Homo sapiens: one gene and its partner. The protein of the gene in region 2 binds, or shares a complex with, the protein of the main gene of each other region. Each region holds a gene or a part of one and is shown on either strand. Other genes may lie near its edges.

Region 1 (7,000 bases), on a different chromosome or scaffold from region 2:
CCCCAAAGAATAGAGAATTGCTAGGGTATATAATTGGGGGAAGGCAGCGAGGGATGAGGATAGTAAGGGTGGCAGTGTCTGTTCTATGGAGAGCACCCTTTATAGCTCTGTCAAAACATGAGCATCTTATTCTGTAGGGGATGGAAGGTGTCCCTGATGGACTTAAGGCAGGAAAGCATTTCAGAAAGACCTCCCTGACCATGGGGAGGTTGATTGGAGGAACAAGAAGGCTTAGTCGGCGTGCAAGTCAGAGAAGGGGCGAGAGATGAGGGTATGACTTTGCAAAAGGTTTGAGAAGTAGAGCTTGAGATTGGCTGAGTGTTGAGGAGGTGAAAGGGGCGCTGGGGTGACTTGAAGGTGGTTCCTGGCTTACCTGACTGTGTGCTAATTGTTTTACGAAAAGAGACTGGGAACCCACGAGAAGGAAGCATTGGTGGTGGCAGTGGCTAAGGAGAGAGAAGTGATGAGTCTGATTTGGGACATGTGTAGTTTGAGGCACCCATGAGTCATCCAGGTGTAGGTATTAGGTGGACAGTTGGAAATACTGGCTTGGGAAAAGAGTTGGGCTGGACATAGAGATATGAGAATCCCCTTTGTTTTGATAGATTAGAGTCCTCCTAGCTCACTTATTTGCCTTGTATTAATGTCTGTTAATACCTCCATCTCTTCTCCCCTGAATAACATAACGTTTGAAATATTTTATAGCTTTATACTTTTTTATAGCTTCAACTGTGTCCTCAAACAGCTAGATCCCCCATACACAGTTGCTAAAAGCCAGAAGAAACTTTCTCAAACCTTGCCAAAAATTCCTACATTGATCTGTTAGGTACACCAAAGTTATAGTCTTCTCTTCCTTCCTTCATTCATTTAACACATATTTATTGAGCATTAGGTGCTGTTGTTCAGTGTACTGGGAATGGGGCTGTGGACAGACCAGACAAGGTTCCCAGACTCAAGGAGCCTGTTAGGAGACAGACAATAAATGAACAAACAGGTAGGCATGTGATGCCAGAAATTGATAACATACTACCAACGAGGTAAAACAGAAATGTGGTAGAGTGGACGGTGGGGCTGCTTTAGCTGGGGTGTGCTGAGAAGCTTCTTTAAAAAGGAAACCTTTGAGCAGAGATTTGAAGGAATTAAGGGGGTTAGCTAGGTAGGTATTTTGGAGGAGAATATTCCTGCAGATGCAGAGGAAACAGTGACTGAAAGCCCAAGTCAGCAGTGTATTTAGCATATTTGAAGAAGAGTGGAAGGCCATAGGACCAAAGTACATAATCCTGGGGAAGAGTGGTAACAGAAGGAGTTGGGTCGGGGACAGTCATGTAGGCCTCACAGCACAGGGTAAGGACTTTGGATCTCAGCCTGTGAGTGACGGGGGCTATTGAAGGTTTGAGCCCCTTTAGAGGATCCTTCCCAGTGTGGTGTGGAGAACAGACTGGGAAGTGGGAGGGGACAAAGTAAGAACAGGGAGACAGGAAGCTACTATATCACCCAGATGTGACACATGAGAGTGGCTTGCACCAGGATGATAGTGGTAGAAGAGACAAAAAGTGGGTCTGACTCATGTATATATGAATAAATGTAGTGTAGAAATGAATTGCTAATGTAGGGTATAAGAGGAGAAAAGAAGTCAAGGACAATGCCACGGTTTTAGACCTGAGCAACTTCTAGCATGAAGATACTATTTACTGAAATGAGGAAGATGGGGAAGGTCCAAGTCTTTGTTAGATGCTAGAATACGGCCTTCCTCCCCCTAACCCCTCCCACTCCATGCACCCTACTGTCTGTGCCCATCTCTATCTTTCTGACACGGCTGTTGCCCTGCTGAAAAACCTGTGTACCAGTTGGTCCCTTTGGACACCAGAGGTCTGCTGTGAGGATGACATTAGATTATACAAATAAAGCCCATAGTGGGGACTCATACACAGACAGAGCTCAGGAGATGATGTCGGGCAAATAAATGAATGGAGTAAAAGGAATTTAGATGAGGGAAACTTTCTGTAGGTAATGTGTATTGAGGAAGACCATTTGGTAGGTAGGACTTGAGTTGGTGGTAATAATGATAGCTAATGTTTATTGAGTGGTTACTTTGTGACAGGTGAGGGAGATGCAGTTATTTTTCCATTTCACAGATGAGGCCCAGAGAGAGTAATTAATTTGCCCAAAGTCATCGAGCTAAAGAGTGAAGGAGCTGGCTGGAGCTCAGGGCTGCAGTGGAAGGTTGGGTAGGTGTTTCTTTTTGGGAAAAATGGCACAGAGCAGGACATGTGCAAGGATAGTCAGGGACCAAGTAAATCAAGTGACTGGTACACAAGGTTTATTCTGGGAGGTAGAAAGTTAAAAGCAGTGACTCACCTGGATGGATCCCTGTGAATGGGAGCCAGTGAGGTTTTTTGAGCAGGGGCAACAGCCGTGTCAGAAAGAGAGATGGGGTCGGGCGCAGTGGCCCTCGCCTGTATTCCTAGCACTTTGGGAGGCCAAGGCGAGCGGATCACTTGAGGTCAGGAGTTCGAGACCAGCGTGGCAAACATGGTGAAACCCCAAAAATTAGCTGGGCATGGTGGTGCGTGCCTGTTATCCCAGTTACTCGGGAGGCTGAGGCAGGAGAATCGCTTGAACCTGGGAGGTGGAAGTTGCAGTGAGCTGAGATCTCATCATTGCACTCCAGCCTGGGGGACAAAAGTGAAACTCCGTCTCAAAAAAAAAAAAAAAGGAAGCTAGAGGTGGCCACAGAGAGTAGGGTGCATAGAGTTGGGGGCAGGGCTAGGAGGAGGAAGCCCATGTTCTAGCATGTAAGAAGGACTTAGACTTAAAGGAATGAAGGTCTGGCCTTAGGTGGTAGTGATGGGGATGAAAGCAATAGTTAGAGGATGTTGCAAAAATATAAATACCCCATGCTATTTAAATCTGTTTAGGAGCTGGGTGCAGTGGCTCACGCCTGTAAGGCCAGCACTTTGGGAGGCTGAGGCAGGCAGATCACCTGAGGTCAGGAGTTCAAGACCAGCCTAGCCAACATGGTGAAACACCATCTCTACTAAAAATACAAAAATTACCCTGGCGTGATGGCACGTGCCTGTAATCCCAGCTACCCAGGAGACTGAGTCAGCAGGAGAATTGCTTGAAACCGGGAGGTGGAGGTTGCAGTGAGCTGAGATCACGCTATTGCACTCCAGCCTGGGCAACAAAGCGAGATTCCATCTCAAAAATAAATAAATAAATAATCTGTTTCGGTAATGAGAGTTTGGAGAGTGAGGAATATCATGTTATCTGAGTCTGTAGTATTTCGTTTCCTGAGTTTTAGTTAGAGAGTAGCAATAGTTTGGATAATGAGGAATACCTGCCTGCTTGCTATGGAAAAATGTATCTACATGTGTTTGGTTTCTGAGTCTGAGAGTGGAGGGACACCTGTAAGTAAACAATCTGAGGTAACACAGAGATGCAAAGGAACAGGGTGAGTTAGAACCTGGGAGACAGAAGCCAGGGGCAGAGGCGGAGGAGGAGTTGGGGGTGGATAACTGCATTTGGAGACATGGTGGGTGTGACAGTTATGTGCTTGAGAGGAGATGCACCAGTGGTGCCTGGAAACTCACGGTTGGAGTTTGAGTGCACGGGGGCAGGTGTGGATTTGACAGTCATTGCCATTGAGTCTTCAAGGGCAGTGGTGAGACACACACTGTGAAGTAGGGAATTTAGAGCAATATTAAAATTAACAAGTTATTAAAAATTATGTAAGATCACATATACTCATGGAAAAGAATTTGCCCTGACAAGGGAATCAAATGAAAAGTAGAAAAGTCTCCCAACTCTCACCTTGGTAATGCTAGGTTGTTTCTTGCTAAGTCAGTGCTTTGTTTCTTGCTATTCCTTCTAAAAAACTGTGAGTCAACCTTAAGTATACAGCTTAGGGAATTTTTACACATTTATTCACTTATGTGACCACTGTCCATATTGAAATATAAAGCATTTCTGGTACTTTGGTCAGCTCAGATCACCATAATAAAATATCAAAATATCTGTTGTTCTGGCTTAAACAGAAATTTATTTCCTCACAGTTTTGGAGGCTGGAAGTCCGAGATCAGGATGCCAGCATAGTTGGGTTCTGGTGAGGGCCCTCTTCCTCGCTGCTCAGTGTGTAGTCAAGACCTTTCTTTGATGTGTATGTGTGGGGAGAGGTAGGTGGAGGAAAGCAAGCTTTCTGGTGTGTCTAAGGGCACTTATCCCATCCTGAAGACCCCACCCACGTCACCTCATCTGAGTCTAATTACTTCCCAAAGACCCCATCTCCAAATAGCATCACATTGTGGGGTAGGGCTTCAACACAGGAATTCTGAGAGAATACAGTTCAGTCCTTAGTACCCGAAAAGCTCTGCTGTGCTTTCTCCCAATCAGCACTCCCCCTACACTCCCAAGGATAACCAGTATTCTGATCTTTAGTCCCATAGATTCATTTTTTCTGTTTTTAAGATCCATATAAATGGAGTCATACGGTGCTTTTTTTTTTTTCTTTTTGTATCTGGCTTCTTCAGCTCATTGTGATGTCTGTGAAATTCATCCATGTTCTGTGTAGTCTGTAGTTTCTTTTCCATTGCTGTGTGTGGTATACCAAGGTATGAATATACTGCCATAAAAAGCCCAAGTGGGATAATTCTGTAAATGCAATGGTTTTAAAATTATAATGGTAGGGACCCAGACTTTTGTTAGAATCCGCACACCTTCTGCCTCCCAAGTTGTGACAACCAAAAATGTCTCTAGCTATTGCTGAATGTCCCCTGTGGGGCAAAGTTGAGTAGCATTGGTTTAGAGAGAAGAGCCAGAGCCAGAGCCAAAGCCACAGGCCCTTTGGGGCCGACTTGGTGATCTGCCCCTGTTTATGCTAGTTGTAAGACAGAACTAGTATCATTCCTAAGGTTCTCTGTAGAGATAATTTCCATCACCACTAAAATGGGGCTGTTTCCCAGGAAGCATCAAGTAAGTTTAAAGACCGAATTAAAACATCTCACATTTGTAAATTCTTTAAGGTGAGCAGGCCCTTAGAGATCACCTGAGCAACCCCCTCATCCAGAGACGATCCAGCCCCAGGGTCAGAGGGCTGGCGTGGGATGGAGCCAAGCTGTAGTCCACAGCACTTTCTTCCCAGCTGGGCCTTCTGCTGGACAGCCAAGAGTTTATCAGAAAGTTACTATGTGGATAATTTATTTTTCTTTGTGATGCCAGGTTATTACTTCTCTTTGCTCATTGAAGAGGAAATAATACAAGTGATATTTTATGTATCAGGAAAGCTGATACTACCCATTCCTTATTGCAAACATTGAGTCACTGAGGGCAGTACTGCTACTAAATCACCCAAGTCTTTTTCTTCTGTCTAGGTTAATTTATTTTAGGTCTTTGTTTTCTCCAGAACTCTACCTTTTGAATAATGATAAGGTCTCTTTTACTTAGTCTCACAGGGCTGTAAAGAACTTTCCAACAATTTTTTTTTCCCTCTCCTCTCTCTTCCAGAGGCATCTGAAACAATGATGTCTGTCAAGATTTAATTTTTTTGGGGTTGTTGTTGTAATTGACAGCTGACAGATAATAGTAAAAAGTGGAATGATATTGTCATCTAGCTAGTTTATGTATTCAAAAGAGAGGAGAACAGAATCAGTATTAAACTTTTGATACCTTGGGTGGAGGTTTTTCTCATCAATCTTGGATGAGAAAAGAAAGAATCATTCACAAGAATGTTGAACACCATTCTTGTGTTTTACTCCTGTCATAGTCTGATTAATAAGGTTTGAGGGCAGAGTTTCTGCTTAAAATTAAATGCTAAATTTCTTTTTTTTTTTTTTTTGCACCGCCCTTAATCCATTTAATCCTGAGTGGACAACACAGCACATGTTTCAGAGAGCACAGGGTTGGGGGTAAGGTCACAGATCAACAGGATCCCAAGGCAGAGGAATTTTTCTTAGTGCAGAACAAAATGAAAAGTCTCCCATGTCTACTTCTTTCTACACAGACACGGCAACCATCCGATTTCTCAATCTTTTCCCCACCTTTCCCGCCTTTCTATTCCACAAAGCCGCCATTGTCATCCTGGCCCGTTCTCAATGAGCTGTTGGGCACACCTCCCAGACGGGGTGGTGGCCGGGCAGAGGGGCTCCTCACTTCCCAGTAGGGGCGGCCGGGCAGAGGCGCCCCTCACCTCCCGGACGGGGCGGCTGGCCGGGCAGGGGGGCTGACCCCCCCCACCTCCCTCCCGGACGGGGCGGCTGGCCGGGCGGGGGGCTGACCCCCCAACCTCCCTCCCGGACGGGGCGGCTGGCCGGGCAGAGGGGCTCCTCACTTCCCAGTAGGGGCGGCCGGGCAGAGGCACCCCTCACCTCCCGGACGGGGCGGCTGGCCGGGCGGGGGGGCTGACCCCCCCCCACCTCCCTCCCGGACGGGGCGGCTGGCCGGGCGGGGGGCTGACCCCCCCACCTCCCTCCCGGATGGGGCGGCTGGCCGGGCGGGGGGCCGACATCCCCACCTCCCTCCCGGACGGGGCGGCTGGCCGGGCGGAGGGCTGACCCCCCCACCTCCCTCCCGGACGGGGCGGCTGGCCGGGCGGGGGGCCGACCCCCCCACCTCCCTCCCGGACGGGGCGGCTGGCCGGGCAGAGGGGCTCCTCACTTCCCAGTAGGGGCGGCCGGGCAGAGGCGCCCCTCACCTCCCAGACGGGGCGGCTGGCCGGGCGGAGGGCTCACCCCCCGACCTCCCTCCCGGACGGGGCGGCTGGCCAGGCGGGGGGCTGACCCCCCCACCTCCCTCCCGGACGGGGCGGCTGGCCGGGCGGGGGGCCGACCCCCCCCACCTCCCTCCCGGACGGGGCGGCTGGCCGGGCAGAGGGGCTCCTCACTTCCCAGTAGGGGCGGCGGGGCAGAGGCGCCCCTCACCTCCCAGACGGGGCGGCTGGCCGGGCGGAGGGCTCACCCCCCCACCTCCCTCCCGGACGGGGCGGCTGGCCAGGCGGGGGGCTGAC
Region 2 (7,484 bases):
TCATTTTGTTGTACTTTGCAGGTACTACATTTTTTACAAATTAAAGGTTTGGAAAACTGCACAGAGCAAGTATATTAGCACCATTTTTCCAACATATGTTTACTTCATGTCTGTCTCTGTTTCACATTTTGGTGGTTCTCACATTATTTCAGACTTTTTCATTACTATATCTGTTATGGTGATCTGTGAGTAGCAATCTTTGATGTTGCTGTTTTGTTTTGGGGTGCCACCAACTGCATCCATATAAGATGGTCAGTTGATAAATGTGCATATTCTGGCTGCTCCATCAACTGGTCATCCCCATCTCTTTCCCTCTCTTTGGGCCTTCCTATTTCCTAAGACCCAATAATCACGAAATTAGGCCAGTTAATAACCCTACAATGGCCTCTAAATATGTTCAAGTGAAAGGAAGGGTAGCACAACTCTAACTTTAAACAAAAGCTTGAAGTGATTAGGTGTACAGAGAGAAGCATGTTGAAAGCCAAGATAGGACAAAAGATAAGCCTCTTTGCCAAACAGCCAAGTTGTGTTAAAGGAAAGTTCTTGAAGGAAATTTAAAGTGCTACTCCAGTGAACATATAAATGATATGAAAGTGAAACAGCTTTCTGGCTGATGCGGAGAAAGTTTTTGTGATCTGGATAGATGAAACCAGCCACAACATTCCCTTAAGCAAAAGCCTAACCTCCCTTCAGTTCTGTGAAGGCTGAGAGAGGTGAGGAAGCTACAGAAGAAACGTTTGAAGCTAGCAGAAGTTGCTTCATGAAGTTTAAGGAAAGAAGCTGTCTTTCCATTCCATTAAAGTGCAAGGTGAAGCAGGAAGTGCTGATGGAGAAGGTACAGCAAGTTACCCAGAAGATCTAGCTAAGATCATTGATGAAGATGGTTACACTAAACAACAGATTTTCAGTGTAGATGAAACTGCCTTCTATTGAAAGAAGATGCCACCAAGGACTTTCATAGCTAGAGAAGAGAAGTCAATGCCTGGCTTCAAAGCTGCAAAGGACAAGTTAACTCTCCCTTTAGGGCTAATTCAGCTGGTGATGGTAAGCAGAAGCTCATTTACCATTCTAAAAATCCTAGGGCCCTTAAGAATTATGCTGAATCTACTCTGCCTGTGCTCTGTAAACGGAAAAACAAAGCCTGGATGACAGCATATCTGTTTATAGCTCAGTTTACTGAATACTTTAAGCCCACTGTTGAAACCTGCTCAGAAAAAAAAAAAATTTCTTTCAAAATATTACTGCTCATTGATGATGCACCTAGTCAGCCAAGAGTTCTGATGAAGACGTATAAGGAGGTTAATGTTTTTATGCCTGCTAACACATCTACTCTGCAACCCATGGGCAAAGGAGTAATTCAGCTTTCAAGCCTTATTATTTAAGAAATACATTTCATAAGACTATAGCTGCCATATAGATAGCGATTCCTCTGATGGATCTGGGAAAGTAAATGAAAACCTTCTGGAAAGGATTCACCATTGTAGATGTATTTGTAGGCCAGGCACGGTGGCTCGTACCTGTAATCCCAGTACTTTGGGAGGCCAAAGCGGCAGATTGCTTGAGCCCCAGGAGTTCGAGACCAGCCTGGGCAACATGGTGAAACCCAATCTCTACAAAAAATACAAAAATTAGCTGAGCATGGTGGTGCGTGCCTATATTCCCAGCTATTTGGGAGGCTGAGATTGGCGGATCACCTGAGCCTAGGGAGGTTGAGGCTGTAGTGAGCCACGACCATGCCAGTGAACTCCTTCCTGGGCAACACCGTGAGACCCTGTCTGGGGCGGATGGTGGGAGAGGAACATTTGTGATTGGCCAGGCATGGTGTTATGTTCCTGTAATTTCAGCTACTCAGGAGGCTGAGGCAGGAGTACTGCATGAGCCCAGGAGGTTGAGGCTGCAGTGAGCCATGATCACACCACTGCACTCCAGCCTGGGTGACAGAGGGAGATCCTGTCTTAAAGAAAAGAAAAACAAAAAAGAACATTTGGGTCCGGGCATGGTGGCTTACACCTGTAATCCCAGCACTTTGGGGGGCCAAGATGAGTGGATCTCTTGAGCTCAGTAGTTCGAGATTAGGTTGGGCAACATGGTGAAACCCCATCTGTACCAAAAGTACAAAAAAATTAGTCGGGCCTGGTGGCACACACCTGTGGTCGCAGCTATTCGGGAGGCTGAGGTTGGAGGGAGGATCACTTGAGCCTGCGAGGCAGAGGTTGCAGTGAGCCAAGATCGTGCCACTGTGCTCCAGCCTGAGTGAGAGAGTGAGACCCCAACAAAAAAATACACAAAAAACATTTGTGATTCATGGAAGGAGGTCAAAATATCAACATTAAATAACAGGAGTATGGAAGGCATTGAATCCAGCCCTCATGGATGAGTTTGAAGGGTTCAAGACTTTAGTGGGGGAAGTACTTGCAGATGTGATGGAAACAGCAAGATAACTAGAATTAGAAATGGAGCCTGAAGATGTGACTGAACTGGTGTCACTCATGAGGAGTTTGCTTTATAGACAAGCAAAGAAAGCAGTTTCTTGAGATGGAATCTACTCCTGGTGAAGATGCTGTGAACATTGTTGAAATGCCAGCAAAGGATATGGAATATTACTTAAGCTTAGTTGATAAAGCAGCAGCTGGGTTTGAGAGAACTGACTTCAGTTATCTTATTTTAAGAAATTAGCATAGCCATCACAACCTTCAGCAGGCAACACCCTGATCAGTCAGCAGCCATCAGCATCAAGGAAAGACCCTCCACCACCAGAAAGATGACTTGCTGAAGGCTCAAGTGATTAACATTTTTAGCAATAAAATATTTTTAAATTAAGGTATGTATATTGGTTTTTTAGACATAATGCTGTTGCACACTTAATAAGTGACAGTGGTATAGTGTAAACATAACTTTTATATCCACTGGAAAACCAAAAAATTTGTGATTTTATTGTGATACCTGCTTTATTGTGGTGGTCTGAAATGAAACCCACAGTATCTTTGAGGTATGCCTGTATGTGCTTTTACTTCTGAAGTCCAGCCAACATTATTTCTCCTTCCTTTCTGTCTTCCTGCCATGTCTTCTGTACTTTTGGAAACTATGCACTTGTGCAGACATTGTGCTCAATACTTTGTTTCTTCAGATGCCATCATTAATGAGAACTATGACTACCTGAAGGGGTTCTTGGAAGACCTGGCACCTCCAGAGCGCAGCAGCCTAATTCAGGATTGGGAAACATCTGGGCTTGTTTACCTGGACTATATTAGAGTCATTGAAATGCTCCGCCATATACAGCAGGTACCTGAGATCCTGAAACTGCTGCCTGATTTTCCTTTTCTCAGGCCCTTAAATCTTCAGATACCTCACAAGGCCTTAGTATACACTTGAGAATGCACTGACAGAGATAGCACTGTCAAAGCAGGCATCTTGCTGAGGCTCATTTGATATAACCGTTTCTGACAGCTATATCGAAACTTAAAAATGCTATTTTATGTTGATTACCAACTAGTATGTGCAATAGACATTCCTGAGGCTTGTCCATAGACAGTCTCTTCCCCTTGTTCAGTCCTAGTTTGAGTGAGAAGCCCAAAGATGAGAGATAAAATAAGAATGGAGATTTGGTGAGGGTGAGGATAGCTGTTTTACACATCATTTGGCATGTTTTAAAATTGCAAATATGGGTTTTAAAGTCAATGTCTTCGGTCAGTTTTTTTTTTTTTTTTTTTTTTGGAACAGAGTCTTGCTCTGTCATCCAGGCTGGAGTGCAGTGGTGTGATCGTGGCTCACTGCAACCTCTGCCTCCCAGTCTTAAGTGAGTCTCATGCCCCAGCCTCCCAAGTAGCTGGGAGTATAGGGTGTGTGCCACCACACGCAGCTAACTTTTGTATTTTTAGTAGAGATAGTGTTTCACCACATTGGCCAGGCTGGTCTTGAATTCCTGGCCTCAAGTGATCGGCCCACCTTGGCCTCCCAAATTGCTGGGATTACAGGCATGAGCTTACCGCACGCCTGCACGCAGCCTTAAGGTCAGTCTTTGTAGTCGTAAAATGAGTCTCCACTGCTTGCTTATGGTGCAAAAACCAAACTCATTATAATAAATATAGGATTCAAGTCCTTTTAGAGGCTTTTACCTTTCCTGCCTTACTCCTACCACTCTTATTCCACGTTCCAGCCTTGCTAGCCTGCTGTACTCACACTAAATTACTTCTGGTGTTTCTAACAAACCATATTATGTTCCACACTACCTAGCACACTTAAACTCATCCTTTTAAGATCTAGGTTGCTGTTACCCCTACTTCTCTCTGCTTTTCCCCAGAGATAATTAATTGCACTTTCTTACTACCAAGATACTTAGTACATTATTCTACTAGTGCACCTGTCAGACCATATTGTAGTTACTTATTCATATTTTCAGGTTGCTATAAGCCCCTTTTGGGAAGGTCTTTTACGGTTACAGGCAATAGAGTGTAGAGGTTAACAGCTCAAGTTCTGGAAGCAGACTTATAGATTCAATTTGTGGCTTCCAAATTCACTGGCTATGTAATCTTGAGCAAGTTAACTACCTCTCTCGTCTGAAAGAAAAAGGTGGGTGGGGTAGACAGTAGTACAGATTATAGTTCATATTGACAGATTTTCACAAAGATTAAACAAAATCTACATGAAGTGTTTTACATAGTACCTTTCATGTACTAAATGCCTTTTTTTTTTTTTTTTTAGGCAGAGTTTTACTCTGTCACCCAGGCTGGAGGGCAGTGGCACAATCTCAGCTCACTGCATCTCCCAGCTTCAAACAATTCTCCTGCCTCAGCCTCCCCAGTAGCTGGGATTACAGGCGTGTGCCACCACACCCAGCTTTGTGTGTGTGTGTGTGTATTTTAGTAGAGACGGGGTTTCACCATGTTGGCCAGGCTGGTCTCAAACTCCTGACCTCGGCCTCTACTAAATGCTTAATAATTGTTATCTATTATTATCCTCATCAAAGTTCCAACTCCTAGTACAGTGCCTGGCACATAATAGACATAATTCAATGTTTGCTGTACTTTTAGTATGAATCAAGAACATCATTTCTAAATAATCACTTGAAGAAACCACTTTCTCATTGAATATTGAGTAATTCATTCACACAACCTATTATGGAGAACTCACTGTATGCCAAGCACTGTAGTGGGTTTGGGGAATATAAAGGTAAACAGTATGTGTTCTGCCCTTACCAAAATAATGATTTTGTGGGGGAGATACATACAAGTAAAGCAGCAATTACTATAGCTTGATAAGTATAGGGATTAAGCAAAGGGTACTATCAATGTGCCAGCACATAGCTGGATGTGGTGGTGCATGACTGTAATCCTAGTACTTTGGGAGGCTGAGGCAGGAGGATTGCTTGAGACCAGCCTGAGCAACATAACGAGACCCCCCTTCTCCCAAAAAAAAAAAAAAAAAACCTATGTTACATAAAAACTCTCTAGTATTATCTTGTTCTGCTTCTTCTCCTTACCCTACATGTCACCATGTAAATCTCCTTTGAATTCCCACCTTTGGGGGTTTTAGCTGTCTTCTCTTTGCCTGGAAAGCTGAGCTCTCTCCTTGTTATTCAGGTCTCAATTTAAATATGACCTCCTTAAAGAAGCCTCTCTTGGTCCTCCAGTCTCAAGTAGCTATCCAGTTTCTCTCTGCCACATCCACCTGTTTAAATTATCTACATGGCTTGTGATTTTTCAGGATTTATTACTGTTTTGTGTTTTCTTATTTATTTTCTATCAGTTTCATGAGAGCAAATAACCTGTCTTGCTCTTGATCCTCCTGCCCCCTGCACACAGCTTTTTTGGTGTTTTAGAAAAGGCTATAAACTTGGAGTCAGGGGACCTAAATTAAATGTTGGTTCTGGCTGCATTTTTTACTTCCTTGTGTGCTCTTTAGAAGTCATACCATCTCTCTGAACCCAATTTATCTTGATTTTTGGTGCTGTGTTATTAAAGCTTGCTGTATAGTTCGGGATCTCAAGACTTTTCCTAGTCCAAGGCTAGGTAACTGTGTTACCTTCCTCTTGGCTATTACTGCATAATTAGTGCCTTGTCCTCCACTAGATGGTGGTGGCTTGGCCCTGTGTCATCATCTTGGATTTTCCCCTCCCTCACCTCACTGTTGTTTCAAGGTTTTGTGTAGAGTCTATAGGTGGGATTGGAGTGATAGGAACTCCCCTTGGATTAATTGGCTTCTCTGCTTCTTTGTAGGTGGATTGCTCAGGTAATGACCTGGAGCAGTTACACATCAAAGTGACTTCACTGTGCAGTCGGATAGAGCAGATTCAGTGTTACAGTGCTAAAGATCGCCTGGCTCAGTCAGGTAAGCCTCTAACCTCCTCACTCTTTCTGCCTTCTTGCTTCCTGTTTTTATGATTATTACACCCCACCCTCAGTGCCTACCACCCTTCTCCAGACCCCATGCTCAGTGCTTGACTCTAGTTTTTCTCTCTAGACATGGCCAAACGTGTAGCCAACCTGCTGCGCGTGGTGCTGAGTCTGCATCATCCTCCTGATAGAACCTCCGACTCAACACCAGACCCTCAGCGAGTCCCTTTGCGCCTCTTGGCTCCCCACATTGGCCGGCTTCCCATGCCTGAGGACTATGCCATGGACGAACTGCGCAGCCTTACCCAGTCCTATCTGCGAGAACTGGCTGTTGGGAGCCTGTGAGCCCCAGGCACTTTGCATCACAGTCACATGCCCATTCACACCACACAGAGGTTCCCTGCCTTGTTTGGATTGGCACTGTTTGCCATTCTCTGGGTTGGCTGTGGCATCTACCCTCCCTCCCTGCTGCCAGAAGCAGCATCCTCCACTTGTTCAGGGCTTTTCTTAATACTGAACGTAGCATAAGGGCTTCTGGAACCCAGAAGAGGAGACAGTTTACCATCCTCAAGATCATTCAGTGTTTTTCCTTTAAAAAAATGGTCAATAAAGCTCCTTTGGCAGAATCCCCCAAAGAACCAGGGTATTCTTTTTCCATCCCTAGCCATTCTGGATCTTGTGACCCTCCATGCCAACCAGCTTCCCTACTCCTACCCTGGCCCTTTTATACTAGGACTCCTTAGGAGGAGTGAGACAGGTGATAATGGATCCTTAACAGATGAACTATCCACAGAAGGAAGAGGGATCCGTCTCTTAAGTAATTGGTTAGTTAACACTGAATTTTGGAGGCAAAGGAGGGTTGGCCTGAGTTAGGAAACAAAATGGGATCTTTCTGACACACTTAGGGCAGAAGTGAATGCCTGTCACGGAGGGATTGATCTTCAGGGCTGTTTTTGTTCCTGCCTTTAGAGTTCCATGAACACCATACCTTTGCTACTACTATGTGCAGGAACCCTTGGTCACATGTGACATGTCTGTGGGAAGCTCCCAGAGTTTGGTTTGGTCCCTGGTTTTCAGTCTTGCTGAGACTCTGTCTGGATTTGCCTGCAGAGTTTGGATAAAAAATGGCAGGTTGGGTAACCCTCCCTGTTC

Evidence for each region. Proteins that work in one complex are often made in the same cells at the same time.
Region 1: NUP98 (region 2) and NUP93 share a complex: the UniProt entries of both Homo sapiens proteins name them as parts of the nuclear pore complex.

Annotation. Positions count from the first base shown.
Region 1 is NC_000016.10:56,733,129-56,740,128, forward strand, and holds part of NUP93 (nuclear pore complex protein Nup93), read left to right. Parts: intron 1-7,000. UniProt on the Homo sapiens protein: Plays a role in the nuclear pore complex (NPC) assembly and/or maintenance. May anchor nucleoporins, but not NUP153 and TPR, to the NPC. During renal development, regulates podocyte migration and proliferation through SMAD4 signaling.
Region 2 is NC_000011.10:3,675,352-3,682,835, reverse strand, and holds part of NUP98 (nuclear pore complex protein Nup98-Nup96 isoform 1 precursor), read left to right. Parts: intron 1-3,127; coding exon 3,128-3,282; intron 3,283-6,215; coding exon 6,216-6,327; intron 6,328-6,459; coding exon 6,460-6,677; 3' UTR 6,678-7,484. UniProt on the Homo sapiens protein: Plays a role in the nuclear pore complex (NPC) assembly and/or maintenance. NUP98 and NUP96 are involved in the bidirectional transport across the NPC. May anchor NUP153 and TPR to the NPC.